Linked DNA regions of Homo sapiens. The protein of the gene in region 1 interacts with the protein of each later gene in a biochemical or structural test. Each region holds a gene or a part of one and is shown on either strand. Other genes may lie near its edges.

The links.
Region 2: the proteins of CAPRIN1 (region 1) and ENG interact on a protein array, tested with the Homo sapiens proteins (one large-scale study listed by IntAct).

Annotation. Positions count from the first base shown.
Region 1 is NC_000011.10:34,054,411-34,058,432, forward strand, and holds part of CAPRIN1 (caprin-1), read left to right. Parts: intron 1-4,022. UniProt on the Homo sapiens protein: mRNA-binding protein that acts as a regulator of mRNAs transport, translation and/or stability, and which is involved in neurogenesis, synaptic plasticity in neurons and cell proliferation and migration in multiple cell types.
Region 2 is NC_000009.12:127,827,159-127,830,658, reverse strand, and holds part of ENG (endoglin isoform 1 precursor), read left to right. Parts: intron 1-831; coding exon 832-972; intron 973-3,500. UniProt on the Homo sapiens protein: Vascular endothelium glycoprotein that plays an important role in the regulation of angiogenesis. Required for normal structure and integrity of adult vasculature. Regulates the migration of vascular endothelial cells.

The DNA.
Region 1 (4,022 bases):
CCTGTTGGGTATCTTCTTAAATTTTTTTTTTTTTGAGACGGAGTTTCGATCTTTTTGCCCAGGCTGGAGTACAATGGCGCGATCTCAGCTCACTGCAACCTCCACCTCCCGGGTTCAAGCGATTCTCCTCCCTCAGCCTCCCAAGTAGCTGGGAGTACAGGTGCCTGCCACCACGCCCAGCTAATTTTTTGTATTTTTAGTAGAGACAGGGTTTCACCCTGTTGGCCAGGATTGTCTCGATCTCTTGACCTCCTGATCCGCCCGCCTTGGTCTTCCAAAGTGCTGTTACAGGAGTGAGCCCCTGTGCCCGGCCTCTTTTTAAAATTTTAATGCAGTAAGCAAGCCTGCTGATCTGGCTGCTACTTGAGTTTTTGATTCTTTAGAATTTCTTGGAAATGTTTTTTTCTAGGACAGTAATTGAACATAAAATATTAATGATTGTGAACATTAATAATGTGTTAATACTAATTATGAACATTAATGATTAGTGATATAAAGTGTAGAGACATTAATGACTGAAAGATAACTCCTCAGAGAAGTTAATATAAAGGTAGGTGCTGATTGGCAGCCAATTTAGTTGTGAGGTGGCTGTTAGAATCTAGTGTTCAAGTACTTCTGAAAAAAAAATATAAATCTAGTTTATAAGCCCCTCCTGAGGACTTGAACCATGACTGGTCATTAAATGTGTATAGGTGTATGTGAATTACTATACTCTGTCATACCCTACCCTCAAGTGATTTTGTTATTTTATTTTTATTTTTTGAGATGAATCTCTGTTGCCCAGGCTGGAGTGCCCAGGCTGGAGTGCGGTAGGATGATCTTGGCTTCCTGCAACCTCCACCTCCCGGGTTCAAGTGATCCTCCCGCTTCAGCCTCCTAAGTAGCTGTGATTACAAGTGTGCGCCACCACCCCAGGCAATTTTTTTTTCTTTGAGAAGTCTCGCTCTTGTCCGCCAGGCTGGAGTGCGACGATGTGATCTCGGTTCACTGCAACCTCCGCCTCCTGGGTTCAAGCGATTCTCCTGCCTCGGCCCCCCGCCCAGAGTAGCTGGGGTTACAGGCACCTGCCACCACGCCCAACTAATTTTTGTATTTTTAGTAGAGACAGGTTTTACCTTGTTGGTCAGGTTGGTCTAGAACTCCTGACCTCAGGTGATCCAGCCGCCTCGGCCTCCCAGAGTGCTGGGATTACAGGTGTGAGCCACCATGCCGGGCCTCCCCTAAAGTCATAAAGGAGAAAATAATGTAATTATTACATAGGTTATTAACTAGGCTAATACATACTGAAAGATTGCCGTGTTAATAATGGAGATTCAACAAACTGCACAAAGTAACTTTTTTTTCTGTCTTCTCAGTGTTTTAAGTGGTAGATAGCAGCAAAAAGGTCAAGTTACAGTTAAGTCTTGAGACTTTGATAAGCCACAGACTGAACTCTACCTACATGTTAAGTAGTTAAGTTGGCAGTATTGATGTTGACTTAATTGCTATTAAAACTATATCTTTTGCCCTTTGAAAAACCCAGGGCATTTGGATTTGCCCTAAATTTAAGCACATCTGGTTTTTAGTTTAAATCCTTTTTATATTTAGATGATTTACTTGTGAGAAGACTTAACTGTTTTTAAGTATAAGTGAGCATTTCTAATGCACTAAAATAGGATTGCTTTACAAATCAGTTTTGAATTCCTCTTTAGAAACCCTTGTGGAGTAAAGTGAGGTACTATTTACAATTAGATTTGTTTTGACTTCAGTCCATTTAGCAACTTACATTTGAGCTTTATTTCAATCTTGACCTATTCTTATCGGAGCCTTCTGGACCAAAATGCTTTTTTTATGGATTTTAAAATCAAATATCCTGGCAAAAATGACTATGGATATGTAGTATTGCTTAAATTAAAACAGAGAATTGAAATAATTTTATTGTACTTTAAAAAACAAAGTTGTTTATTTCCTAATAATTTGAGCCATTAAAGAAAAAGCTAAGCATCTGCTCATTGAGAATGCATGCTCTTAATGTTGATGAAATATGATCGTGTTATGTAATGCAACTAAAAGGCTTGGTGGGTTTTTAAATTCAGGCTTATAAAGAGTACATGAATGTTTAGCAAAGAGAAGAAATACAGCTGTGATAATCAAGTGTAAAATCCATTTGCAAATCTTACAGGTAATATTGAATTGAATGATTAACTGCCTAGTTTTCTTTATCAGTTCATTGGTGCTGAACTGGGCCCTAGGCTATGCAAGATATTTCAAAACCAAGTCTTAATTTTAACTGAAGAGAGACCTCATTTGATATTATTAGATGTAATCAGTTGTGATATAGAATAAAGGATGTTTTAATAGATGACATTTAAAATTGTTATATTCTTTGTGAATATAATAGGTTTAGACTCTAGTGACTTTGGTAGGTGAAAGATTAACTAATGATCACTTGCGTAAAATGCAAAAATAGCCTGACAGCTTTTTAACCACTAAGTGACCAAAACTGATAGCCAGAAGTGTAGTGTTTTTAATACTTTTTCCTGAAGGCTTTCTGCACTTCATCTTTGCAGTTAGTAGTATTCTTTAAAAAGAATGCTGTTGTTGTGAGGGTAACATTTCTTTCTAGAACGTTGCAGTGTGTCTGTGCTTAGAATTTTCATTGCAGCTGTTGTGCAGAACTTATGTGTTCAGTGTTTTAAAATAAAAACATTCTTAACTATTTTATAAGTAAAATCTTTCCTTGAGGCTATTACCTGAAGCCTTCTTTGACATTTAAGATCTCTTGATGTGTTTGCTTTTCCATGGGTTGCAAGAACTATTCTTCTGCAATGCAGAGGGCAAGATTATTTTGCATTCACCTTGTCATAGAAAAAAGCTGTAATGCTTAATTTGTTTCCCTTTGCTTGACTGTGTGTGTTTGTATGTGTAGCACTGGGAAGTATTTAAAGCTGTGAATTCCCCCAAGTGATAATGGGTACCTTTTTCTAGGGTGAGAGTCGAAGCCTAAGTATTACATTGAGAATGTATTGTTTTAACGTGGCCAAATTAGTGTACTCTAGGATACTACCCATGTGGCAGATATTTGAGAATGCATTTTGTGTGACTTACAGATTAAGCATACAATTTGCCAAAATTTTATGTAATTAATTTCCTAGTTTACATTTAGGGCTAGATGAAGACTAGTACTGTTTCATCTTTTAGAAAAACTAACACTTTTCCTTTAGTAAAAGTGTTAATTTTTGCAATACTTTTGCAAAAGGTTAAACTTATAGCAATTTTGTCATAGCTATAATCTTACACTGTTATAAAATTTAGAGGATTTTTAATTTTTATTTATTATCATTATTTGAGACAGTTTTGCTCTCGTTGCCCAGGCTGGAGTGTAATGGCATGACCTCGGCTCACTACAACCTCCCCCTCCCAGGTTCAAGCTATTCTCCTGCCTTAGCCTCCTGAGTAGCTGGGATTACAGGCGCCCGCCACCACGCCCGGCTAATTTTTTATATTTTTAGTAGAGATGGGATTTCACCATGTTGGCCAGGCTGGTCTCAAAACGCCTGACCTGAAGTGATCCACCCACTTCAGCCTCCAAAGTGTTGGGATTATAGGCATGAGCCACCATGTCCGGCCTAAGAGTTTTTTTTTAGAGCTTAAACCACCTTAGAATTTAGTCCAGTTCATTTTATAGAAGACAAAATTGAGATGTTTATATGGAATGACTTAGGTTGGAATGGGTGATTTCCAAAATTCTCGCAGTTTTTTTTGAAACAGAATCTTGCTCTGTCGCCCAGGACTGGAGTGCAGTGGTGCAATCTCAGCTCACTGCAACCTCTGCCTCCTGGGTTCAAGTGATTCTCATGCCTCAGCCTCCCGAGTAGCTGGGATTACAGGTGCATGCCACCACGCCCAGCTAATTTTTGTATTTTTAGTAGAGACGGGGTTTTGCCATGTTGACCAGGCTGGTCTCAAACTCCTGACCTCAAGTGATCTGCACGCCTTGGCCTCCCAAAGTGCTGGGATTACAGGCGTGAGCCACCACACCC
Region 2 (3,500 bases), on another chromosome or scaffold:
TTTTTTTTTTTGAGACGGAGCGTCATTCTTGTTGCCCAGGCTGGAGTGCAATAGCGCAATCTCAGCTCACTGCAACCTCTACCTCCTGGGTTCAAGAGATTCTCCTGCCTCAGCCTCCCAAGTAGTTGGAATTACAGGCATCCACCACCACCCCACCTGGCTAATTTTTTGTATTTTTAGTAAAGACGGGGTTTCACCATGTTGGACAGACTAGTCTCGAACTCCTGACCTCAGGTGATCCACCTGCCTCAGCCTCCCAGAGTGCTGGGATTACAGGTGTGAACCACCATGCCCGGCCTTTTTTTTTTTTTTTTTTTTAGATGGAGTCTCACTCTGTTGCCCAGGCTAGAATGCAGTGGTGCCATCTCAGCTCAATGCCACCTCTGCCCCCAGGGTTCAAGCAATTCTTGTGTCTCAGCCTCCCCAGTGGCTGAGATTATAGGCACCCACCACCACGCCTGGCTAATTTTTGTATTTTTAGTACAGATGGGGTTTCACCATGTTGGTCAGGCTGGTCTCCAACTCCTGACCTCAGGTGATCCGCCCACCTCAGCCTCCCAAAGTATTGGGATTACAGACGTGAGCCACCGTGCCCAGCCTAATTTTTTTTCTCTCTTCAGATTTGCCGGGCTTACCTCCTTCATTTGTTTATTGTGAATTCCCTGAGGATGGCCAGAGGGACAGGCACTACCCTGGGCACTGGGAGGTGAGGGTGGACAGAGCAGGCAGGGAGAGTGGAGTGGAAGCATCCAAATCATCACTGCCTGTCTGGGTGGCACAACCTATACAAATCTGACTGGACTGTGTGTGTCTCTCCTCTGTGTCCCCCAGGGCCCGTCACAGCTGGAGCTGACTCTCCAGGCATCCAAGCAAAATGGCACCTGGCCCCGAGAGGTGCTTCTGGTCCTCAGTGTAAACAGCAGTGTCTTCCTGCATCTCCAGGCCCTGGGAATCCCACTGCACTTGGCCTACGTGAGTGTGTTCCCTCCAACCCCAGGCTGAGGCTCTGGCCATGGGAGGTCCCTACTGTCCATCTCTGTGGGTCAGGGTCTCCCACCCCAGCGGCCCAGCCCTGCTTCTCCCTTTCATCTTGACATTATTCACCAGGGTCCTGCCTGGTGAAGCCAATGGTCTCTACCAGAGAGAACCCAGAGGGCACCAGGACTACAGTAAAGAGTCTAGACCAAGAGGTGGGAGTCAGGTTGATGTGCAGCCCTGGCCAACTCTGATCCTCTGCATAGGCTCAGTTTGCCTCTCTGTCCAGTGGGACAACTGAACTCAATATTTTATATGATAATCTTTTCATTGTCTTTGAAAAAGTTACACGACATATATTTGAAAATATTTAAAGACAGAGGAAAAGGGCCAGGAGAAAACCTAACGTGTTAACAGTGGTTATGGCTGGGAAGTGGGATTAGGAGAGACATTTAGTTGGTTCTTCACACTTTGTTGAGTTTGCAAGAGTTGCTCTAAATGGATTTGGCCTATTTTGGAGAAAAAAGTATTTTTAAAAAACTCAAGTTTTCAGGTCAGCTGTGGATTTGGGAAAAACAATTAAAAACAAACAACCAAAAGCCTCAACTTTTAAAAGTGTTAGCTATATCCACCAGAGAGAGGAGGTCAGGGAGCTGGGACCCACTGCCAGAGGTCAGGGCTGGAGGAGGCAGGGTGGCTTGCCAGCACTGCCTCCTCCATGAGGAATGTCTGGGAGGTGGCCCCCAGATGTGAGCAGCTGTTGTTTACAACAGAGAAAGCAGAGGGTAGGAAGGGGAGAGCCCGGGGGAGAGCAAAGATAGCAAAGGGGAGAGAGGCATAGAAAGAAACATGCCCACTGCGGGAGGGAGGCAGGCTTGAGCGAAGTTGGGCGTGGGGGACAGGGGAGAAGCTTCCGGACTGGTGACAGGGACAGCACAGAGACAGTCAGACATGACCAAGCCAGCATGCCAAAGTCCTAGGAGGGAGGGGGCCAAATCCAACCACCAGGGCCAAGAGGATTTGACTCCTTGCAGCCCATCCCTCGGCCGCCCAGAAGGGGAATCGAGGTCCCAGAGGGGGCGTGGCCTTTACCATGGATCCTCCCCCTTCCCGATCTGAGTCCGTGCAGCCCAGGGTGAGGCAGGAACATGAAACGCGCCCGCCAGCCGGAAGGTCGCAGTAGCCGCCGGCTCTGGCCTCGGCCGCGCCGCCTTCCTCCTGGGGCCGCGCTGCTTCCCGAGCGGGCTCCCTGGGGCCGGTGGCCAGAGGGGACAAAGAGGCCAAGGCGCGGCCTCGGTGGCCGACCCAGTGCCAGGCGACCAACAGACGTCGTGCCCTGCTGTATCCCCATTTTACAGGGGCTGACTCAAGGATCAGATCCCTTTCCCAACCCAGCTGTAAAGCCAGTGTCCCAGCCCTTTCCCATTCCGCGGGCTGGGTTCCTCACCCAAGATGCCCATCACTTTGCCCCCTTGTTGAATCCCTACAGAGAAGGTATCTACTTCCTTCTAGATGGGCCATTCTAGGGTGTCTTGTCTACTGTTGCCATCTGGCAGTCCTCAATATCTAGCTTGGGCCAGGCGACCTGGCTTATGTCTGTAATCCCAACACTTTGGTAAGCCGAGGCAGGAGGGTCTCCTTTTTTTTTTTTTTTTTTTTTTTTTGAGATGGAGTTTCACTCTTGTTGCCCAGGCTGGAGTGCAATGGCCCCATCTCGCCTCACTGCAACCTTCGCCTTCTGGGTTCAAGTAATTCTCCTGCCTCAGCCTCCCGAGTAGCTGGGATTACAGGCACCTGCCACCACCCCCACCTCATTTTTTGTATTTTTAGTAGAGACAGTGTTTCATACCGTGTTGGCTAGGCTGGTCTCGAACTCCTGACCTCAGGGGATCCACCCGCCTCGGCCTCCCAAAGTGCTGGTTTACAGGCGTGAGCCACTGTGCCTGGCCAGGAGGGTCTCTTGAGGCCAGGAGTTGGAGACCAGCCTGGGCAACATAGTGAGACCCTCGTCTCTAAAAAATTATAATAAAAAATATTTTTAAATCCAACCCGAAGCCCTTTTGCCCTTCTGCTGCTGCTGTTTCATTCAGCTCAATGCCCTTGGCTTTGGAGACTGTACACTAAGAGCTCAGTCAGTGGCCCCAACAGCTTCCTCTGAATCCTTCAGCTTTCCAGAGTCACTCTTCCAGGAAGTCTTCCCTGTCTGCTTTCCTCCTCACCCCCAACCCCCATTTCTTCTGAGGCAATGGCAGGGTAGGCAGTGAGATGCTGAAGCCACCCAGACTCCCCATCCCTGTCCAACCAGGAGATCTGTCTGGCTCCTTTGTTTCTTATTAAATAAAATTCTGTCTTCTATTGTTTCAAATGACTTGATGCATGTCTAGTTTCTGAATGGTAATATCCCCTAGGGCAGGGACCACTGATATCTGTCTTTAATTCATTAATTCATTCATCCATCCCTTTCTTCTTTCTTCCCTTTCTCCCTGTCTTCCCATAGGCGGGGAGCACCCATCACATGCTGGGTG